Regions from separate parts of the Homo sapiens genome. Here region 1 is linked to region 2. Evidence: fine-mapped QTL for protein levels in blood plasma. Region 2 holds a variant in brackets. A gene starts in the other region. All regions are shown on one strand. Distances are from middle to middle.

Region 1 (8,000 bases), 46 Mb before region 2:
AGGTTTCCAGGGAAGAGGGGACTCAGCAACGAGGGGTGCTCCCTCTGCAGTGTTTATTGGAATAGTACTGGTACTTTTTATTGTAGGTCGTCTTGTTTCTAGCAAAACAGGTGGCAGCAGCCTTATCACACTCACACAGTTGACTTCTGCAGGAGTCCTGTTTTGCTGAAATCATAAGAAAATAAACACAAGATGGGAGTTTATTAATATTCAGTGGCTTCTTGTGGGAACCCTGGGGTAGAAGACACAGCCCTGTCCTCCAGAAGCTCCTAGTTGGAGACAAACACCTGCGCTCCAGATATTTCTGACCAATGGGGAGACAGAATTCTTGCCCTTGGGATGCTGGCCTCCAGCCTGGTGGAGACACAGCCAGGCACTGGGATACTTTCTCAAAGGCCTTCCTAACAGCCATAATCTCTTCCTCTTGCTAACAGATGTGTCCAGGAGGCAAAGCCCTAGCCTCGGGGGTCTGGGAATAGATTGTGATTGGTGTAAGCCAGGCAGGGTCATCCCTTTTTCCTTTGCAGTGATTGGTCTTTGTGTATCATGTAACCTTGTTCCAACCAATGAGCAACAAGGGGAAGTCTGCTGGGGGCTTCTGGGAACGATCTATTTCCTCCCTCCAAAAAGAGAGATGCCCAAAAGGAAAGCCTCTTCCATAGTATGAGGCCAGGAGGGTGGACCTGCAGCCTGTCTCTTGACATCCCAGGTGTAGACACTGGCCACGTGGCATAGCTGAAGGCCAGGAGAAGGCTGGATTCTTAATGACATGGCTGGAAAGCTGCCCCAAGCCTGGCACTGCACTCTTCCAGAATTCTAGTTATGCGACAGTCACATATCCCCATTATGCAAGCCACTGTCAGCTTGGCATCATGTGGCTTGTGACCTAACGCCTGCTGAAGATACATGCCTCTATGGAGAGGCCATGATGGGAGACATAATTTCTGATCTTAAAGGACTCAGGCCATGGGCAGGAGTCCACGCTTTTTCCAAATCCCACTCATGAGTCAGCTGTCTGGGGACACCAAGCAAAGCCTTCCAGTGCCACCCACCTCTCCTCCCCTTCAGGGCCAAACTTTCTCCAGAATGTTGTCTTTGCCTCCTGTCTTTATTTGCCTTCCCATCAGCCCCCACCTGGTCTAATCTGGCTTTGCCCTCCCGACTCCATGGAAACAGCTTCCCCTGAGTCCCTCATGCGTTTCTGCCTCAACATCCAGGGGAGCCTTGTTGGCCCTTTTCATGGAGGACTCCCTGTTCACTTGGCCCTTGCTAACCATTTCCTTACTGACTCCTTGACCTTCTCGCTCAGTTCCCCTTCTCCCTCTCTGTCCATCCCTTCTCTGTCTCCTTTCTGGGCCTTTAAACAGCAAATGAGTGATCACACCCACCTCTCAGGTCTCTGCTGCTGGCTTCTGAATCTGTGTCCCAGTCCTGAATTCTCCCCTGAGCTGCATTTGTATAGACAGCTGCCTGCTGGACCCCTCCCTGGGTGCTGGAGGCCCCTAAACTCAACATGCTGGAAATAGAACTGCTCCTCCCCACCCTCCACCATGACCTGCTCCCATGGTCTTTATCACAGTTGTGCCATCCATGCAGCCACATATCCATCCAACAACTCCCTCTCCCCATCCCTCCCAACTCAGTCACCAGTTCAGCTGATTCCATCTCAAATGCATCTTGATTTTTTCTCCACCTTTCCCATCCTGACCTCCATTGTTTTATGTCAAGATGTTACTCCCTCTTGCCTGCATGATGGCAATAGCTTTCTCTGCCCCCCTTCCACTTGTCTCCATCGACCCTGTCCCCACAGTGAGTCATCTAAAATGCAAATCTGACCCTGTAGCTCCTTTGCTTAATAGCATCCTATTGCTTTAGGGCAAAACCTAAATACAGCCCGGCCTGGAGGGCCGGATTGACCTAGCTCCTTCCTATGTCTCCAGCATCATGGCTCAGCACTGCTCCTCTTCCTCATGTTTCTGCTGGGCAGTACAGAATGGCTTACAGTGCCCTTTAGTGCCTTTGACCATGCTGTGTCCTCTTCTGGGAATGCTCCCTCCTCTTCCCTGACTCTCTGCACAGCCTTTCAGACTCAGCTTAGGGGTCACCCCTTCCAGGAGCCTTCCTCAAGCCTCAGGCTGTGTTAATGCCTTATCTGTTTGTTTACTTCCCACTGGAGTCTTTACTACATTGGATTTTCACTTTCCTGGCTTCCCACTCAACCGTGAGCTTCCTGAAGCAGGAACTGTGTCCCTCTGTGTCTATCTTTGGTGCCCAGCACAGTCCCCAGCACTGTCTAAACAAATGAGGGCCACTCGATGGTGAGGTAGGACTCTTACCACAGGTGATTCTGCTCCCCGAGTTGCTAAACTTGTAGCTCAGAAATTTGGTGCCACATCCACGTTTCTCCAGACGTTTGTAGCAACAGTCATGAGTGACACAGCAGCTGTGAGGAGACACCCTGTTGGGGCTCTTGTCCCACAGCTCCAGGAGGCCTGGTGCCTGTGGTCTCACCCCCTTGGACCCTGGGCAGAGACCCAGTGACTTTGCAACAGTCTAGAGCAGAAGTTCCAACATGCCGGCTGCTTTTCCAGCCAGGCCATCCTGAGACCTCTGCGCCCATCAGGAACCGGCACTGTCTTTGCAGCTCCCAGCCCTGCCTGGGCCAGAGTCTAGGAGGGTAGGGAGGGATAGGTGGCCTCACCGATCCGTTGCATCCTTGGGGGATCCTCTGCCACCCACGCCACAGTGGCAGCCGTAGAAGCCATAACTGAGTGCGGCTTCCTTTCCTGTCGTCAACTTGATCATTCTGTGGAAATTCACCAAATTCCCATGGGCCTGCAGTAGGCCTGGAAGGAAATTTGGGAGTTGTCTGGTGATGGGGCATGGGGTTCTGCGCCCTCCCTCTCTGCCCCTCTCTGCTACTCTCCTTCCTCCCAAATGGCTTCTTTTTTCCCCCTGAGAGAGGATCACTGCAATGGGAGAGAAAACTAAGGGACAAGAGTGCTTCCCTTCTGGGGCTGTCCCCCCATGCTCAGAGGTCAGGGTCAGCTCTTACCAAAGATCATGATCACTGCCAACAGTAGGAGGGTCTTCATGGTAAGAGTTCTTGGGTGACAAATGCAGATGGACTGGCCTAGCTCCTCTGCTGGGTGGTCTCAACTTCTGCCCCGGCCGTCGCTCCCCTGCTCCTCCTTGGTGGCTCTGAGACACACAGACATGCTCTCCCATCCAACCTAAGTCCAGGGTGACTTCCTCTGTCACACTCAGAGCACACAAGGAGTGCCCTCCAGCAATGCACACACACACACACACACACACACACAACCACCTCCTGACCCGTTCCCAGCTCTGCAGAATGGTTTCACACACATCAGGCCCTCAGACCTGTGGAGAACCCCATGATACACTAATGAGACCTCCCCTGTACCTCATCAGACTGAGAGTTCTTGGGAGGTTGGAACCAGGTTCCTCCCAACTACCTGGGAGGTTCCTGAGGTCAGAGGATGTGTCCCTCGCTAGACATAGCTTGCATATCCCCACACTGGATTCAAGGCTTGGAGTCTCCAAGGCACCCATGGAGGCTCGGCCTCAGTATTTTCCTCCAGAATGAAAGCATCAACCTCTCTCTTCTAGGCCTTCTAACCCCTTCCACATACACAAGTTCCCAAACACATACATGTTAACACACCTATGCCCACATACACACACTCTCGTACTTACCTGATAGTGCCAACATCCTCTCTTACACTACACTCACATACTCACTCAACACACTCATGCACACACACCCTCTCATACATATCAAATCATGCACATGCATGCACAACACAGCCACTCTCAAAGGCAGCGAATGAGCAGGAATTCTGCTCTTGACAGGACATCAGCTTCGCTGGCTCTTTACCTCTCAGAGGACTCCAGAGTTGTATCCCCAGGCCGTCTTGTTTGTTCTGCACTCCTGCTCCCCTTAAATAGCTGCTCCCTCTGGGAGGTTGGGGGTAGGTGAGGCACAAGGCTGGGGATGGGCGTGGTCAGTTGGTGGACTCAGGATTGGTCGCCCATACCCCTAGGTAATCCCTTTCCTTCCCCTCATCAGCTGGCAGGACAGAGTTGAGGATTGGGAAACCTTACGTGTCAGTAGCTGATGCCAAAACACATTTCAGGCAGTTTTGCAGTCTTTCCATGGAGTAAATTCCCATAACCAGCTCTGGGTGTGATCAACGGTCAGCCACCTCCCTGCAATCGCCTCTAAGGGGGGCAGAGACTGTCTGCTGTTGCAGGCTGTGGACTCATTTGCACACCCAAAGGGACTACCAATTGCTGAGCAAGGATTGCTCCCTTCTGCTCAATGTGGCATTTGGGAATAGAAAAGAGGGCTTTTAGTGGTACTCATTCATTCAGCCGCTCAATCATTCATTCACAGGAAGTATGTCCTGGGCCTCTACCATGTTCCAGCACCTGTGCAGGCCTCACGTGTGCACCCCACAGTCCACCAGGGAGAGAGTTTAATGGGGGTGGATTTCCCTTCCCACTAACTTGGGCCAGGGCCTCAACTTTCTCTTCTTATTCTTCTTTCTTCTTTTCCTCCACCCCTGTCTCATATGAGCTTCTAAACCTGGAAAAAGCCAGAGGCTATCCTTGAAGTTCCCACCAAAGCACTGCCTTCACTTTATTCCCCATCCTCACCTGTTTGGAGACAGGGCAGGTGAATGCTCCCTGGATCTGTTGCTCTTTTTCCTTCAGCCTTCGGGCTGACACTGACTCCAGCTTTAATTCATAAAGTAAATATCTTTTTCATTGCTCTCCAGCACATGCTAAGAATTTAGCTTCCACCGCCTTAAGTAAACACTCTGCGATACCAGTCCTAAAAAAGTCACTGTGGCAGGGGCTGTGGTGCTTGTGAACATTCCATCTGTTCCCTACACTCTAGAGCCCCTTGCAGGGATGGAGACCTAGGGCCCTGCTGCTGACTGGTAAAACATGAGCACTGGTATGAAGGGTCACTTCCAGGTTTCTCCAGCAAGGGGACTATGAGATGCAACTCCCCAGCCCTTCCCTGCCCCACTGGTAGAACCAGAAGATGAAAGCAATCTGGGGTGTAAGAATCATGGCACGGAAGACAGTTGTCCTAGAAAGTCCTGCAGCTCACAGGGGTCTTAGTGTGAGTGAGAAATAGACTTTTGTTGTATTAAGCTGATGATAATTGAGATGGGCAGTTGCTGGAGCATAACCTAATCTATCCCAAGAGCCATCAAACAGCTTTCCTCTCGAGAATACCATTTACCTCCAGTGCTCGACTGTGTAAGGGGTTGGACTGTGGTCCTCCTTCCTGCTCTCAGTTCCTGTGTTGGAGTCCCGGTACCTTAGAATGTGATCTTATTTAAAAATAGGGTCATTGCAGATATAATTAGTTAAGAGGAGATCACTAGGGCAGCTAGGATGGGCCCTAATCCAAGATGACAGATGTCATTACAAAAATGGGAAATTTGGAGACAGGCAGGCACACTGGGAGAAGGCCATACAAAGATGAAGGCAGAGATCAGGGTGAAGCTTCTACAAGCCAAGGAATGGCAAAGATTACCAGAAAACACTGGAAGCTAGGAGAGAGGGATGGAGCAGATTCTCCCTCACAGCCCTCAGAAGGAATCAACCCTGTTGGGCCCTTTGATTTCTGCCACTGGAACTGTTAGACAATAAAATGTCTGTTGTGTAAGCCACAAAGTACCTAATACAAAGCCGAAGCAAACTAACACAACCTCCAGGGATCTCTGTTGGCTTCCTTCACTCTTCTTATTCTGGGTTGCCAGTCCTATAGCAGTTGGCTTTATGGCCACGTCAGGGTTCAGAGGTCTCAACCCCCCGGGGTAGACCACTGCCTTTGTTAAACATTGCACTTTCGGAAACAGTAGTTCCTCCAATAGGCAGAACCGCCTCCCTCTCTGTATATCTGGATAGCCCTGGTCCAGGCTTCAGTTGAAAGAAATACTCCAACGCTCAAGGACTCTGGTGACGTCGGATAGAGCCTCTCCTTTTCCCATCATTTCAGGCTGTTTTACAGGAATTCAAAGTCCATGAATTGGCCTCTTGTTCATCTTCCATCCCAGACCTAATCCAAGCCCTTGGACTCAGTAAGCCAAACAGAAACCTCTACTTTCACAGGGCTTCCGCTTAAGCAGAAAGAGACAGACAATCAGCAAAAGACATACTAGTAAATGACATCATGTGATAGGTGGTGACACTGCAATGGGGAGAGAGGCAGTAGGTGACAGGGCAGGAGCACCGTCATCTCGGACAAACACCACCACTTTAAGTTCCAGCTCCCTTTCTAGCCTCATGCATTTCAAGGAAATCATTTCTCTTCTCACTACAAACAGCCAGAAAGAGTAGACAGTAAAACACAGATAAAACACAGATAAAACACAGATAAGACAGCTCGGGCAGAGAGGGAGGTGTTCGGAAAGTTTCTCTGGCAACTGCCAAACTTCACCCTCATAAAATGGGCCCCAGTAAAACAGTGAGCCTTAATAAGCACATTCTTTTCCCTTCAGGTGCACTAAGATAGGAAAGCTAAAAGCAGACTTGGGGAGTATGCCTGAGGCTGCAGAAAGATGTATGGGAACAGACACAGAAACTCTCCCTTCCAGATAGGCACAACAAAAAGACACAGAAGCAGTCCAAGCCTCTGTTAAACTCTCCCACCCTGAATCCTTAAAAACTCTTAGTCTGTAAGTGTGTGCCTCTGACCTAACTCAGACAGCTGCCCCTCTCTAAAATAAACCTGTCCTTGACTGCCAAGCCAGCTTTCATGTTTCTTTCCTCTTTCCTTAATTCTTACAGTAGGGATGGAGGAGGGGTATCTGGAGTAGGAGGATGGCAATTTTACATAAGATTGGAGTGCTCAAAGAGAGGTGCTTTGAGCTTAGTCAGTGCTCAGAACACTTTCCTTGCATTATTAATAACTAAAAGAATCAGCATATTGACAAGTTTTTTTCTTTTGCCAAATCAATATCTGCATAAGCAGGTTTTTTTTGTTGTTGTTGTTTTCGTTTTTTTTTTTTTTTTGAGACGGAGTCTCGCTTTGTCGCCAGGCTGGAGTGCAGTTGTGAGATCTCGGCTCACTGCAACCTCCGCCTCCCAGGTTCAAGAGATTCTCCTGCCTCAGCCTCCGGAGTAGCTGGGACTACAGGCATGTGCCACCACGCCCAGCTAATTTTTGAATTTTTAGTAGAGGCGGGGTTTCACCATGTGGGCCAGGATGGTCTCGATCTCCTGACCTCATGATCTGCCCACCTGGGACTCCCAAAGTGCTGGGATTACAGGCGTGAGCCACCAAGCCTGGCCAGCAGTTGTTTTTAATTGCAGGATTACGGTTGAAATTTTTCTGCTACTGTTTCCTAATGTTCCTTTGTGAACATACATTAAAAATTTTTTTGAGATAAATTTTTACTTACAGAAAAAAATTGCAAAAGTGGAATTTTTACTTACAGAAAAAATGCCCTTCACCCAGGTTCCCTAATGTTAACATCTTCCATAGCCATTGTACAATCATGGAAACCAGGAAATTCATGTTATTAACTAATCTACAGGCATTATTTTAATTTCACCAGTTTTCCTACTCATGTCTTTTTTCTTCCAGGCTCTCACATTGCATGTAGTTTTCATATCTCCTTAGTTTTTGCTAATCTGTGACATCTCCATACTTTTCTTGGCCTTTTATGACTGTGATACTGTTAGATAGTACTGGTCAAGCTTTTGTAGAATGTCATCCATTTTGGGTTTGTCCGATACACTCTCATGATCAGATTGAGGTTATGTATTTTTAGCAAGAATGTTACAAAGTGATATGGTGTCCTTCTCGATGATATTGGTATATCTCACTACTACTCATGTTAATTTTGATCACTGGTTAAGATGGTGTCTGACGGGTTTCTCCACTGTAAAGTTACTATTTTTCCTTTTGTAATTAATAAATATGTTGTGGGGAGATACTTTGAGATGGTTCA
Region 2 (16,255 bases):
AAGACATGGAAGTGGAGAGAGAAGGTATACTATGTGTCTAACTGGAACTCTAAAGAGAGATAATGAAGAAGATGAGGGAAAGATAGTAGGCAAAGAGTCTTCTGAGAGACAATGTTTCAGAATTGATGAAAAATATTAACCTAAAGACCCAGCAATCATAAGCCCAGGTTGTGAATAAAACTAAATCCACACCTAGACAGATGATGAAACTTCCAAACTACAACCATAAAGAAAAGATATTTTTCAAAAGCAGAGAAAAAAGACAACTTACAAAGGAAGAAAAAATAAACTCTAAGTAGGCTTCTCAAAAGCAAGAATAGAAACTAGAAGGCAATAGAACAATATCTGTAAAATAGTGAGATAAACTAACAATGCACCTGAATCCACCACTGATAGAACCTTGTTGAAAGAACCAACAAATGATTTAGTCAAGAAAGAAATGGAGCCTAGAAGCACAGAGTGAGGTACAGGATGTATTCTTAAGCAAATAAATTAGTCAGCAGGTGGGTAACCTGGGCATATTAAACAATAATAAAAATGTTGACAAACTCACAAGAAGACATTTCTCTATATGTTAAAGTATAACTGTCTGAGTCCATTTTGTGCTGCTGTAACAGAATATCTCGGACTGGGTAATTTATGTCACAAACTGGCTCATGGTTCCAGAGGCTGAGAGTCCAAGATTGAGGGCCTGGCATCTGGTGAGAGCCTTCTTGCTGCATCATAACATGGTGGAGGGCATCACATAGGAGAAAGAGAGAGAGCAAGTGAGGGCCAAACTCATCCTCTTATAAGGAACTTACTCCTGGGATAATGGTATGAATCTCTTAATGAGGGCAGAGCCCTCATGGCCTAACACTTCTTAAAGATTTCACCTCTTAACACTGTGGTATTGGGGGTTGACTTTCCAACACATGATTTTTGGGAGACACATTCAAACCATACCAATAACCTTGCACTGTTTTATTGAAATGGGCACTACAATATAAATCTTAAGCCTTACCACAATTATACAACCTTTCCCTTGAACAAACACAGATGGTGGGTATCTCTAATAATCCTCAGATTGTTGCCATGTCCCAGCCCATGACTGGGCTCAATCTCAGACTTTCAACCAAGAAACATACTTTCATCTTTTATAATATCATATCTGATTACATGATAGGGAAAACAAGATTGCCAGATTATTTAAACATAGATATCTGTGGTTACGGCTAATTGATCACAGTCTCCAAAAATTAAGTAGATAGGTGTGGCTTGACATATATAGGAAGAAATATTTTTAGTTTACTGAGTAGACAGGCATCTAATATGAGGATCCGTGGAAGAAATTCACAGCTTCTTTTTTTTCTTTTTAAAAATTTCAATACTTTTGGGGGTACAGGTGTTTTTTGGTGACATGGATAAATTGCATAAGGGTGAAGTCTGAGATTTTAGTGCACTCATCACCCAAATTGGTACATTGTACCCAATATGTAGTTTTCTTTATCCCTCATCTTCTTCCCATCCTCTCCTATTCTGAGTCTCCAAAGTCCATTGTACCACTCTGCATGCACTTGTGCACCCATAGCTTAGCTCCCATTCGTAAGTGACAATATATAGTATTTGGTTTTCCATTCCTGAGTTACTTCATGTAGAATAATGGCCTCCAGCTCCATCCAAGTTGCTGCTAAAGGCATTATTTTATTCTTTTTTAATGGTTGAGTAGTATTCCATGGTGTATTTATACCACAGTTTCTTTATCCACTCATCAGTTGATGAGCACTTATGCTGGTTCTATATCTATGCAGTTGGGAATTGCGCTGTGATAAACATACATATGCAGGTGTCTTTTTGATAGGAATTGCACTGAATCTGTAGATTGCTTTGAGCAGTATCGTCATTTTCATGATATTGATTCTTCCAATCCATGAGCATGGGATGTTTTTCTGTTTGTTTGTGTCATCTATGATTTCTTTCAGCAGTATTTTGTAGTTCTCCTTGTAGAGATTTTTAATCTCTTTGGTTAAGTATATTCCTAGATATTTTATTTTTTTTGCGGCTATTGTAAAAGAAATTGAGTTCTTGATGTGAGTCTCAGCTTGGACATTCTTAGTGTATAGCAGTGCTACTGATTTGTGTGCATTGATTTTATAATCTGAGACTTTACTGAATTCATTGATCAAATCTAGGAGTCTTTTGGAGGAGTTTTCTAGGTGTACAATCAAATCATTGGCAAACAGAGATCCTTTGACTTCTTCTTTTCCAATTTGGATGCCCCTTATTTCTTTCTCTTGCCTGATTGCTCTGCATAATCTCTTCCAGAGTAAAAACAGAGAATACACTTTTCAATTCATTTTATTAGTATTGGATGTCTCAATACCAAGACTAGACAAAGATATTATAAGAAAGAAAACTGCAGATATAAACAGTTGAAGATAAAAATCTTCAAGAAAACATTAACAAATCAAATCCAGCAAAACATAAAAAGGATAATATATCCCAACCAAGTGGGGTTTATTGCAGGAATATATGACTGGTTCAACATCATAAATCAAGCAATGGACTGCGTGCAGTGGCTCACGCCTGTAATCCCAGTAAGTGGTGCTGAAAAATTGGGCATACATGTGAAAACAAAAAAGAGTCTTAGTCTGCACCTTACGCTGCATAAAAATGTGAATCAAAAATGATTAATAGACTAAATGCAAAATCTAAAATCATAACACTTCTATAATAGAAAATTCCCTAAGAGAAAACTTTCACGATGTGGGTTAGGCAAAGAATTTGTAGACATGACACCAAAAGCTTATGTAAAAGAAAAAAATTCGATAAACTGGACTTTATATTAAAATGTAACATTTTGCTCTGAGAAAGACACTATTAAATATTTGAAAAATAGAAGGCATAGATTGGGGGAAAATATTTGCTAATCACATTTCTGACTAAAAGCTGCATTCGGAATATAGGGAATATTTAAAACTCAACAATAAGACAACAACCTAATTTTACGAAATGGACAGAACGTCTGAACCTTCACCAAAGAAGGAATTTTGGATGGAAAATAAGTATATGAAAATGGGCTCAGAATCACTAAAAATTAGGGGAAATAAAATAAGATACCAGTATGCATCTATAAGACTGTTTACAGTTATCTCTGAATATCATGTGCTGGAGAGGTTGTGGAACCAGTGGAGCTCTCCAACATTATTCGTCACGATAAAAAAGGATTTGACTACTTTAGAAAACAGTTTGGCAGTTTCTTATAAAGTTGAACACATATGGTGGACCATCAAGTGGTCCAACAATTTCACTCATAGGTACCCATTTAAGGGAGATAAAAATTTATGGTCACATAAAAATATGTACACAAATCTTCATAGCCACTTTATAATTGTAATTGTCATTGTCAAATTGTAATTGTAATTGTCAGAACATGGAAACAATCCAGATATCTTTCAGCTGGAGAATGAATAAAAAAACTGTGATACATCTATATAATAGGAGATAACTCAGCAATATCAAGGGACAAGCTATTGATTCCCCAACAACATGGATGAATCTTAAAACCCAAAGACTATGTGTTGTTTGATTCCACGAGCAGACCTATAGGGAGAAAAACACATCAGCAGGAGCAGGGGTTGGGGGTGAGGGGAAGGGGTTTTGTATAAAAAGGAAGCATGGGGAATTCAAGAGGAGGTGGATGTGTGATGGAAATGTTCTCTATAGAATCGTGACGCTATGCATGTGTCAAAACCCATCAAACTGTATGCCATAAAAGTGAATTTTACTGCATGTAAGTTAAAAATCTCAGCCAGGATATGGGAACAATATGGAAAGCCGGCTGTGTGTGACAAAGCGGCTCAGAATGTACTATGAATGAATCACATAACCGATACGGAGGGAGGTGGGGAAGTCAGGGTTTAAACTGAATGGATGCTGTAAGACTCAAGACAAAAGAACTGTATATAAACACTGTACTTGAGAAATTTGTTTTTTTTAAATTTTTAATTTTTCTGGCTATATAGTAGGTGTATATATTTATGGGGTATTTGGGATATTTTGCTACATGCATACAATGTGTAATAATCACTGTTTAGTGATTGGCTGACCCTTAGTTTTAGGAACATGGTTACCAGTGTGCATCTGTTGCTGACTTTAAAAATGCAATTATTAAAGTGAAGCTGTTTCCAATTGGCTGACTTTCAGAATTCTGAGCTGTCATTGATTGACTAGGTTTCAGAAACATGTTTATTGAAATGAATTGTCATTGATTGATTACGTAAATTTAAACTCAGCTGGGTAGTTACTTATTATAATAGCTAGCAAATAACTAGTCTTCTCATAGAAGTGTAAGAACTTTTTTTCTCAACAGCATATTCTCTAATATGAACCTGGATGTAATCTCAATGTCTACATAATATGCAAATGGTTAAGTAATTATGGTGAAGACATAATGGAATATTATGCAGTTAATAACCATTATTAATGTCGCATAGCTGCATAGTAAAAGATTTATAATGTAAGGGTACATTTAAAAAGATTTTAAATAGAATTTTCTTGTTTATGGCAACTATTTGAAAAATATGCGTGTGTGTGTGTGTAAAGGGATCAATTCATAGAATGATGAATAACTCTTAATGCTTTACATGTTTTTATATTTTATATGTATATATGTGTGTGAACACAAACATGTTTTAAAATAAAGATTAAAAAAGCAATTTAATAATTCAACAGATAACAGGAAGGTTTGAAATGTAATAGGAGATGTTGAAGACCAATATGCCTTTAAGACACAAATGAACTCATCTTATTAGAGGCCATAAAAGTGGAAGAAACACTGAACTTGGAATTTATGTCTTCATTTGAGTCTTTCCTGAATCACATTATTATTTATCTGACCTTGGGCGAACCATTTGTCCTTTGTGAGCTTCATTTGCCCGCCTTTAAAATATGACGAACAATCATATGCTTCATAGGTTAAGAGAATTAGATGAGACTCCTGTTATGAAAATGCTTTGTCTTGGAAATGCGGGCTCTTTTTTGGTTCCATATGAACTTTAAAGTAGTTTTTTCCAATTCTGTGAAGAAAGTCATTGGTAGCTTGATGGGGATGGCATTGAATCTATAAATTACCTTGGGCAGTATGGCCATTTTCACAATATCGATTCTTCCTATCCATGAGCATGGAATGTTCTTCCATTTGTTTGTGTCCTCTTTTATTTCGTTGAGCAGTGGTTTATAGTTCTCCTTGAAGAGGTCCTTCACATCCCTTGTAAGTTGGATTCCTAGGTATTTTATTGTCTTTGAAGCAATTGTGAATGGGAGTTCACTCATGATTTGGCTGTTTGTCTGTTATTGGTGTATAAGAATGCTTATGATTTTTGCACATTGATTTTGTATCCTGAGACTTTGCTGAAGTTGCTTATCAGCTTAAGGAGATTTTGGGCTGAGATGATGGGGTTTTCTAAAAATACAATCATGTCATCTGCAAACAGGGACAATTTGACTTTCTCTTTTCCTAATTGAAAACCCTTTATTTCTTTCTCTTGCCTGATTGCCCTGGCCAGAACTTCCAACACTATGTTGAATAGGAGTGGTGAGAGAGGGCATCCCTGTCTTGTGCCAGTTTTCAAAGGAAATGCTTCCAGTTTGTGCCCATTCAGTATGATATTGGCTGTGGGTTTGTCATAAATAGCTCTTATTATTTTGAGATATGTCCCATCAATACCTAATTTATTGAGAGTTTTTAGCATGAATGGCTGTTGAATTTTGTTGAAGGCCTTTTCTGAATGTATTGAGATAATCATGTGGTTTTTGTCTTTGGTTCTGTTTATATAATGGATTACCTTTATTGATTTGCGTTTGTTGAACCAGCCTTGCATCCCAGGGATGAAGCCAACTTGATCGTGGTGGATAAGCTTTTTGATGTGCTGCTGGATTCAGTTTGCCAGTATTTTATTGAGGATTTTTGCATCAGTGTTCATCAGGGGTATTGATTTAAAATTCTCTTTTCTTGTTGTGTCTCTGCCAGGCTTTGGTATCAGGATGATGTTGGCCTCATAAAATGAATTAGGGAGGATTCCCTCTTTTTCTATTGATTGGAATAGTTTCAGAAGGAATGGTACCAGCTCCTGTTTGTACCTCTGGTAGAATTCGGCTGTGAATCCATTTGGTCCTGGATGTTTTTTGGTTGGTAGGCTATTAATTATTGTGGTATGGTGCTGAGAAGAATGTATATTCTGTTGATTTGGGGTGGAGAGTTCTGTAGATGTCTATTAGCTCCGATTGGTGCAGAGCTGAGTTTAATTTCTGGATATCCTTGTTAACTTTCTGTCTTGTTGATCTGTCTAATGTTGACAGTGGGGTGTTAAAGTCTCCCATTATTATAGTGTGGAAGTCTACGTCTCTTTGTAAGTCTCTAAGGACTAGCTTTATGAATCTGGGTGCTCCTGTGTTGAGTGCATATATATTTAGGATAGTTAGCTCTTCTTGTTGAATTGATCCCTTTTCAATTATGTAATGACTTTCTTTGTCTCTTTTGATCTTTGTTGGTTTAAAGTCTGTTTTATCAGAGACTAAAATTGCAGCCTCTGCTTTTTTTTTTTGCTTTCCATTTGCTTGGTAGATCTTCCTCCATCTCTTTATTTTGAGCCTATGTGTGTCTCTGCACGTGAGATGGGTTTCCTGAGTACAGCAGGCTGATGGGTCTTGACTCTTTATCCAATTTGCCAGTCTTTTAACTGTGTCTTTTAATTGGAGCATTTAGCCCATTTACATTTAAGGTTAATATTGTTATGTGTGAATCTGATCCTGTCATTATGATGTTAGCTGGTTATTTTGCTCATTAGTTGATGCAGTTTCTTCCTAGCCTCGATGGTCTTTATAATTTGGCATGTTTTGCAGTGGCTGGTATCAGTTGTTCCTTTCCATGTTTAGTGCTTCCTTGAGGAGCTCTTGTAAGGCAGGCCTGGTGGTGACAAAATCTCTCAGCATTTGCTTGTGTAAAGGATTTTATTTTTCCTTCACTTATGAAGCTTAGTTTGGCTGGATATGAAATTCTGGGTTGAAAATTCTTTTCTTTAAGAATGTTGAGTATTGGCCCCCACTCTCTTCTGGCTTGTAGAGTTTCTGCTGAGAGATCCACTGTTAGTCTGATGGGCTTCCCTTTGTGGGTAACCTGACCTTTCTCTCTGGCTGCCCTTAACATTTTTTCCTTCATTTCAACTTTAGTGAATCTGACAATTATGTGTCTTGGAGTTGCTCTTCTCAAGGAGTATCTTTGTGGCGTTCTCTGTATTTCCGGAATTTGAATGTTGGCCTGCTTGCTAGGTTGGGAAAGTTTTCCTGGATAATATTCTGAAGAGTGTTTTCCAACTTGGTTCCATTCTCCCTGTCACTTTCGGGTACACAAATCAGAC[G/A]TAGATTTGGTCTTTTCACGTAGTCCCATATTTCTTGGAGGGTTTGTTTGTTTCTTTTTACTCTTTTTCCTCTAAACTTCTCTTCTCACTTCATTTCATTCATTTGATTTTCAATCACTGATACCCTTCTTCCACTTGATCAAATCGGCTATTGAAGCTTGTGCATGCGTCATGTGGTTCTCGTGCCATGGTTTTCAGCTCCATCAGGTCATTTAAGGTCTTCTCTACACTGTTTATTCTAGTTAGCCATTCATCTAATCTTTTTTCAAGGTTTTTAGCTTCTTTGTGATGGGTTTGAACATTCTCCTTTAGCTCGGAGAAGTTTGTTATTACCGATCGTCTGAAGCCTTCTTCTCTCAACTCGTCAAAGTCATTCTCCATCCAGCTTTGTTCCATTGCTGGCGAGGAGCTGTGTTCCTTTGGAGGAAAAGAGGCACTCTGATTTTTAGAATTTTCAGCTTTTCTGCTCTGGTTTCTCCCCATCTTTGTGGTTTTTGATGATGGTGACATACAGATGGGGTTTTGGTGTGGATGTCCTTTCTGTTTGTTAGTTTTCTTTCTAACAGTTAGGACTCTCAGCTGCAGGTCTGTTGGAGTTTGCTGGAGGTCCACTCCAGACCCTGTTTGCCTGGGTATCACCGGTGGAGACTGAAGAACAGCAAATATTGCAGAACAGTAAATGTTGCTGTGTGATCCTTCTTCTGGTAGCTTCATCTCAGAGGGGCATCTGGCTGTATGAGGTGTCAGTCGGCCCCTACTGGGAGGTGTCTCCCAGTTAGGCTACTTGGGGGTCAGGGACCCACTTGAGGAGGCAGTCTGTCTGTTCTCAGATCTCAAACTCTGTGCTGGGAGAAGCACTGCTCTCTTCAAAGCTGTCAGACAGGGACGTTTAAGTCTGCAGAAGTTTCTGCTGCCTTTTGTTCAGCTATGCCCTTCCCTCAGAGGTGGAGTCTACAGAGGCAGGCAGGCCTCCTTGAGCAGCGGTGGGCTCCACCCAGTTTGAGTTTCCCAGCCGCTTTGTTTACATACTCAGGCCTCAGCAATGGTGGATGCCCATCCCCCAGGCTCACTGCCACCTTGCAGTTTGATCTCAGACTGCTGTGCTAGCAATGAGTGAGGCTCCGTGGGTGTGGGACCCTCTGAACCATGCACGGGATATAATCTCCTGGTGTGCCATTTGCTAAGGCCGTTGGAAAAGTGCAGTATTAGGGTGGGAGTGTCCCAATTTTCCAGGTACTGTTTGTCACGGCTTCCCTTTGCTAGGAAAGGGAATTCCCTGACCCCTTGTGCTTCCCAGGTGAGGTGATGCCCTGCCCTGCTCATGGGCTGCACCCACTGTCTGACAAGCCCCAGTGAGATGAACCTGGTACCTCAGTTGGAAATGCAGAAATCACCTGTCTTCTGCATTGCTCACGCTGGGAGCTGCAGACTGGAGCTGTTGCTATTTGGCCATCTTGGAACCTCCTCTTATTCACTCTTTCTAAGCATTTTTTTGTACCCATTAACTATCCCCACTTCCCCTCCCCCACTGCCTTCCCAGCCTCTGGTAATCATTATTCTACTCTCTATCTCCATGAGTTCAATTGCTTTAATTATTAGCTCCTCCAAATAAGTGAGGACATGTGAGAACATCTTTCTGTGCCTGGCTTATTTCACTTAACATAATGACTTCCCTTTCCATCCATGTTATTGCAGATGACAGTTTCATTCTTTTTTATGGCTGGGTAGTATTTACTTGATACATTTGTTTCTCATGGGAGTATGGGTTAGAAGTTTTGAAACTAATTAATTTGGATGTTAAGCTTGAACAAAATAAATGAATGAATAAATAAATAAATAAACACATTGTAAATGATCAAAGCTAGGTTTCTCAGAGTGGAAGAATGAAGTGTCGAAAATGAAAGTCAGGAGGGTTAGATGGAATCTAACCTTGATGCTCTTACCTTGCTAGGGTTTTCTGTGTTTTGGCTCCTCCCTGAACTTTCAGCCATCCCTGCAGGGCTGAGCCACACACAGTGACTCTCCACTTATTTGCTTCTCTTTTAGTGGTAGGCTGCTCTTGTTTGTGACTGGATTCTGAGTTCATGGTGGACATTCTCTGTTGTCTTGAATCAGCCTCAGTCTTAGTCATTTAGACCCAGTGCCTGGGTCTTGAGAGTGGGGCTCTCTGGGCATGCTATATTGATTTTACTACTTCTGTTGCTTTCCTGCTATACCTGTACTGTCCATTTCCAGAGAGCTGCACCAACCAGTGTCTTACTTATATTTGGACCTACAGTGTCTGTGATAATGCCTGGTACATAATAGACCTTTGGTAAATTTCTATTGCATGTAATTGAACGAAGTCGATTTGAGTGAAATGTTTAGGAAAACGAAGCGTTGACATTGCTTGTATTTCACAAGATAGTTAAAAATGAATTAACGAGGAAAATTCTGGTTTGAGAATCATTTTCTCTACCTCTTTATAACTATTTGAAATGACAGCATTCCCCATAATAGATTCTCTTTATTTGCCTCACTTCTCTTCGTAGGGGTGAGATAACTGAAATGTGCTGAGGAATTTCCATGTGGCAAGTGTCATGCTGGTCTTTTAAACACACATCCTCATTTAAATCCTGATGATGCTTAAAATCTCCACTGAGAAAATAGGGGACTTAGTAACTTTTCAAATAACTCAGAAGTAGTACGTAAAAGAGGCAGACTAGGAGTCTAGGCCTGAAGGCATGTAAATATCAAAACCAGCTTGTCAAACAGTGTGCTTCTCATAGAAAGATTACTTCTTAACTTGGAGATGAGAACTTTTCATGCTGTACAAACTCGCATGGACAGTGGGTGAGGACAGACTTCTAGGCTCTAAATCTCCAAGGGGTCAGGAAACAACCATGGGGTGGCCAATCGGAGTTGAACCCATTAAGTTACTTGTGAAGTGAAGAAAACATATCAATCAAATTTTTAAAAGTATAGTGTTTGCAATCTCTTGTCTTTCCAGAGCTCCCGACAACCGTCCTTCTGCTTTGCCTTGTGCTCTGCTGCCACCTGCTGGTCATCTCAGAGAAGGCAGAAGGAAACTTTGGGCACAGGGTCAGTGCTCTGGGATCTTTGCCAGTGCAGCCCTGCAGAGTGACTACGGTGACATCTGCAATTGTTTTCTAGGAGCTTGTGTTGACATTCTTGGCTTATCTCAATTCTTTCATTATCTGAAAAGTTTTGAGTAAAAGACCTGTGCCCTAAGGTCTGAAGTTCCAGCCTTCAAACAGGATGTGGGCAGAGGCCTCCCCTTGCTTCGGTAATAAAGTAGATGGATGGCTGATAGGGAGGGCCCAGCAGTCCCTGACGGGGAAATAGTAGGCATTTTCCAAATGAGAGCTCTTCCCTCTCCCCCTCCCTTCACCAGAGGCCCCTCAGGAGATGCTTGGCTCCTGAAGTCCCTGAAGTTGGAGCACATTTAGAAGCTAAAATAGTACCAAGATTTGGGTCTTCTCACTTGCAATTCAGGACTCCTCTGGCTAACGAAATTCTGCGTATGGACTTAAGCAAGAGAGAGCCCCCTAATATGGGAGTAGGTACAGAATTATAAAGTCTGCAGACACAGCAGGCAGGCGGCGGCTGACCTTACTATGCTGGGACTTTAAACAAGTGTTGCTAAGGTCAGCAGAGCATCCAGACACCAAATTGTGCAGTAGGATAGGAAACTATCTGTTAATGACTTTAGAAGTCTATCATTATTTTTCCACCATAAATCTTGGAAAAAACATTAGAAATAATGTATGTGTGCACATAGTCACACATATACAAAGAATGTAAAGAATATAAAATTTGTGATGAAAGGCTAAATACCAACAGTAGTTATCTGAAGGTGATTAGTGCTTTTCCTTATCTGCATTTTATAGTTTTTTTTTAAATGGTGAATATTTATTACTTAGTATCTTTTAAATTAAAAAAAGAAAGAGTGTCTCTTAATCAGAGACTCTGGCTGTATACATCTGGGACTTTTGGTTGTAAGTAGAATGGACCAGAATCTCCAAGGCAGGAGATGGGAAACAGAAAAGAAAGGTCAGCTCTGTTTTATTCTTGCAGCTCGCTCACCCCAGCAGTTTGAAGATAGAGGACAGGGCTATTTGGCTTCTCTGATGTCGTCACTCACTTGGCTGGGATGACATATGGCTGGTGCTGGAGTCCAGAGATCTGGCACTGGCTGTTGTTCTTATTCATCCTTAATCCTGCATCACCCTTCATCTCTGGCCACTACTTCTGTCCTAGTCCTCCCCTATCATGGTAATTGTCTTGTCCTCATTCCAATCTCTCTTTCTACCACCACACAAAATTTTGACAAGCAAGTGGCTAGAAACCGACATTGTTTGTTCAGTATTAAGTCAAAGGAGAAAAGGAGGAGGAACACAGAGGTGTGGTTTTGTTGTTGTTGCTTTTTTTTTTCTTGCCACTGGAAAGATTTGTGCACACTGACATTTAAAACTTATTAACCAGCCAGGAGTGGTGGCTCACTCCTGTAATCCTAGCGCTTTGGGACGCTGAGGTGGGCAGATCACTTGAGGCCAGGAGTTCGAGACCAGCCTGGCTATAATGGTGAAACCTCTTCTGTAGTAAAAATACAAAAATTAGCCAGGCATGGTGGCACACACCTATAATCCCAGCTACTTAGGAGGCTGAGGCAGGAGAATTGCTTCAACTTAGGAGGCGAAGGTTGCAGTGAGCCGAGCTCGCACCACTATACTCCAGCCTGGGTGACAGAGCGAGACTCTATCACAAAAAACAAAACAAACAAACAAAAAGACTTACTAACCAACAGCTTAACTTGGGCTGAGAGGGACTAAAACTTGGGTCTCTACCTTACCAAGTGAAATACCAGATGAGCAAAATCACGCTCAAGTTCTCACTCCCAATAAGCTTTTTCTTCCCCTATTCCCATTTTGAAAGAGGGTGAATATTCTTCCAGAATCCTAAGCATAAAATATGAGAGTTGCTGTGGAGTCTTCTCCCCATCTTATCAATTGCCAAGTTCTGAAGCTTCCATCTGAGGCCCTCCCTTCTCCCCTCCTTCCCTCTATGGGCTCCCTGTTTTACCCCCATCACCTCTGCTCTGCTCACAGCATGAGCCTTCTGAGGTTTCACACCCCCAGTCTGCCCTCATCCAGTCCATCTGACCTAGAGATGCTGCATTCATTCATCCGAGGGCCAGTTTTGACTGCCTTTTTAAAAACATTTGCGAGTTCTCTGGTATTGACCAAATAATACTTGAATTCTAAAAGTAGGTGTATAAACCCTTCTGCAGTCTAATCCCAGGTTATCATTGACTATTCCCTGTGGGATAACGTTGTCAACAGCCAAACTTGGTGGTTCCAGGCACTGTAGTTGACACTGAGGCTATAGACATGAGAATCGGATGCAGTGCTTGCGCTCCAGTAGCCCCACCTCCTGTTGGAGACACAGTCAGCAGTGGTGTAAGTGCTGTAGAGGGATGACGAAGGCTCTCTAGGAGTCTAGGACAGAGAGGGTCAGAGGCTTCTTTAGGCTAAGGCAGAGAAGGAATAGGAATTAACCAGACACCTTGAGGGTAGAAATCGAGGCTAGGAGACTGGTAGACATTTTAGGAGAGGCAACCAAGCAGTTGCATGAAATTGCAAGAATACATGCCAGGTGCTACTTCACATAGTTTAGGCTGCATGTGAGGAAGCAGTGGAAGAAGATGCAGGGGGCATAAGAACAACAGCACAAACATAAATTTCTTCCTTGTATTCTGCTTAGCACTTTTCATGGGTTTTCATGTTTACTTCTCAGGAAACACTAATATGGGTAAGGTTTGTTCTGCTACAATGTATGCTTCTGTAACAACAGTTAGCTTATACTTGATTGGAAAATAAGGGAATGATTTCAGTATAATGAAGTTGGGTTGGTTCAGATAGTCTCCCCACCCCACCCCGCAAGGCTAGGGGAATTAGAAAAGCAGGAATAAAATCAGAACGTTCAGCAGGAAATAAGAAAGCCCTCAGCTCAACTGTGGCTTAGACTCAGGGCCCTTACTGCTCTATTTTAAGAAAACTAAAAATGAGAGTCTGCCATGGGGCTCCCTCTCTAGAGAAGCCAGCTTTACGCAAGATCCTGGCTCTCGGCAGGTCCATGTCCCCCTCTGTCTACATTCACTGCAGCCCCTCTGGTTCAGAGCTCCACTTCTATCTGCATTTTCTTAGTGCCTACATGATACCATCTCCTCTCTATAACTCTGAGCTTTTTTGATAGCCCCTGAAGCAGCCTTCAACTGTGCTGAGCAGCCTTCAACTGTGCTGAGCAGCCTTCAACTGTGCTGAGCAGCCTTCAACTGTGCTGAGCAGCCTGCCTGGATCGTCCAAGTTATCTCCAGAGATTCCAGCTATTGTTTTTCTGTCTGGTTGCAAAGTTTCACAGCTTTTGAGAGATATGCTCAATTTCATTTTTTTCCCTTTAGTCCTTTATTTTTAGTGTGATTTTGTAGAATGTGAGATTTTTCAGGATCGAGTATGTTGTGCAATAGAAGACATGTACTATTGAATTCTTGTTTCATAGGAGAGGAAATAGCAGCTTAGATGCATGTAACTTGCTCATGTTTTTATGTCTGGTGGATAGTAATGCTGAATTTCATGGCTCAAGCTACTTTGTTTTATGGGGCAGATTGGATAGGGTCTTACATGCTGGCACTTAAAAATCTGTTATCTCTCGGCAACTGGGCCTGGGACTTTGCAAATCGCATTTCCTGAACTCCTTTGCTAGCTGCTTTCCTTAGGTTTTGCCAATGTGAGGCACTAGAAAGTGGCTGAGAAGTGAGAGAAGGGGGAAATGGACTTCCTGTTTTTCTATTCCTGTCCTTGTTTCTCTAGAGCCACAGACAGTTGGCTCCAGCCTCTCCATGTCCCTAAGTTGCCAGCAGCAGCTGGGTCGCCCTTCTTTGGCAGTCAGTGAACAGGCCATGCTATTGTCCTTCACCAGATGGGCTTTAAAATCCCTTCGTAATCCAAGCCCTGGCTGGATTCTTCTTCCTCAGTGGTCTGAGCACCAGCTTTCCAGAGCTTCCTCCAAGAAGTCTGAGCTCCAGGCCCCTGGAACTTCTCCCCAGCTCTTCATTCTGGAAACACCATCTCTCCCTTTTGGATTCCTCACTCCTAGGAGTTGCAGTTGCTTCCTGCAGTTCTTGTTCTCTAGGCCATTGCAGTGGGCCCTCTTGTTCTTCCAGCCTTCCAGCACTCGTGTGACCCATTCCTTGCACCAAATGCCTTCTCTTTAACAAACATAATGTGTTCTGTATCCCTGAGTGAACTCTGACCCAGATATCATGCTCATGAATATTGCTCAATAAAGAAACACGAGTCTTTGAAGGCATTTAAACTGAAAAGTGGCTCCTTGCTGCAGTTCTTATTTCTTCATTTGGCAGCATTTGACTCTGTTGACAACGCTTTCTTCCTTTAAATCTTATGTCATCTTGGTTTCTCTGAAGTAAGACTCTCATGGTCTCCATACCTCTCAGGCTACTCTTTCTTAGCCTCCTATGGAGACTCATCCGCCTTTATTCTGGTGTTTCCTGGGGCCAGATACATGCCTTTTTATTTCTCCAATCTACGCAATTTCCCTGGAAGAGCTCCTCCGTTTCCATAGCTTTAGGTGTTATCCATTTTCTGATGATGCACAGATTCATGTCTCAGCCAGACAGTTCTCCTCAGTCCCAGGCCCATTCATCCAGCTGTCCTCTGGACATCTCCATGGGAGTGCTCCCTATGTTGCATTAGAGGGCCTGGACTGTGATGGAGGGAGACCCGGTTTCAATCCAGATCTGCATCATACCCAAGGCATCCCAAAAAGTTGATAATCATCTGTGTTTCCCACCAACCCTTCTCTCCCTCTGTGTTCCTAGTGTAAGTGGCTAACTCTAGCATTCATCCTTGTCGAACTTGAAAAGCTGGGTGTCCGTGTTGACCCCTGCTTCTCCCTCATGTCCCATATACAAATAAGTCCACTAGATTAAATCTCTTCATTCAATTTACGTATTTCTATCATTACTGTCACAACTCTAGTCTGGCCCACTATAATTTCCAACAGCTTCCTCAAAGGCATCTTACCTTCCAATGATGCTGTTCTAAACATCAACTTCCACACAGCAGTTATTTTCCCCCAAATAAAAATCTAATCAAAGTCTCTCCTCTACTTAAAACTGTTCAGTTCTGATTCTCCTCTTGGAATGAAATACACTCTATAGCATGGCTTATCATACCTTGGTGATCTTGTAACGGGATGCTTCTAGCTGAGGGCTCTTTATTTTATGCAAGAAAAGACGCCATTTAAAGGTTTCCAGTTCTAATATCTCCAGGGGTACAGATGGAAGGCACCGTTAGGAACAGAGATTGCTCTGGGAGGGGTCACTTGTCTCTCTTACTTATGTAAATGTCAGTCAAGATTGTACCCATTGAAGGAAGGCATAATAGGGTTTATTTGAAACTTGGCTGTGGCTACCTCTTGGAAAGCACATGACTTATCTCCAGCGAAGAAGTCAATAGAAGTCTTTAAGTTTCTTGGGAACAAAGGGAACATATTTGACCTCTTCCTTTTTGAGTTTTGTGGTCATTAACACTTCGATGAATTGACAGTCTTAGCTGATATATTCCCTGGCAGCAAAGTTCCCCAGGAAAGAAAGGTGAGTTTGCATGTAGAGAGCTTATATTGACACAAAGGTATAACTGAATTCCCATCCACAGTATTAATATGTACCTGAGGTGGCTCTCAACTAGCAGGTGGATGAAAAGACTCATCCTGTAGATGTCAAGTCAGCTTCAATCCTTAGCCATGTCAGTGCTTGAGCAATGGGTCCATGAACATCT

Which allele goes with the higher level. Positions count from the first base shown, and alleles are read on the strand shown. Strength reflects both the effect of a copy and how common the allele is.
In carriers of allele A in region 2, the plasma level of the protein whose gene starts at base 3,940 in region 1 tends to be higher than with G alone (weak association).

The links. A credible set is the group of variants that fine-mapping cannot tell apart. PIP is the chance, under the fine-mapping model, that this variant and not a neighbour inherited with it causes the effect. The UK Biobank Pharma Proteomics Project read protein levels with antibody pairs (Olink). The fine-mapping took linkage between variants from a reference panel, not from the people measured, so its PIPs are less certain.
Region 1: PLA2G2A starts here. The variant in region 2 is the best candidate, but not a certain one, in a credible set for the plasma level of the PLA2G2A protein (UK Biobank, PIP 0.51).

Annotation. Positions count from the first base shown.
Region 1 is chr1:19,975,679-19,983,678 of GRCh38, forward strand. It overlaps PLA2G2A (phospholipase A2 group IIA), which reads right to left and starts at 3,940. Exons shown (of 5, transcript NM_001395463.1): 1 at 3,902-3,940; 2 at 3,056-3,201; 3 at 2,702-2,846; 4 at 2,337-2,443; 5 at 1-165. The coding sequence starts at 3,095. The coding sequence ends at 23. RefSeq lists an enhancer at 2,584-3,083.
Region 2 is chr1:65,677,430-65,693,684 of GRCh38, forward strand. No RefSeq gene overlaps it. Among named protein-coding and RNA genes, the nearest start is that of PDE4B, 110 kb to the right of the region's middle. The variant G/A (reference allele first, on the strand shown) is at 7,398.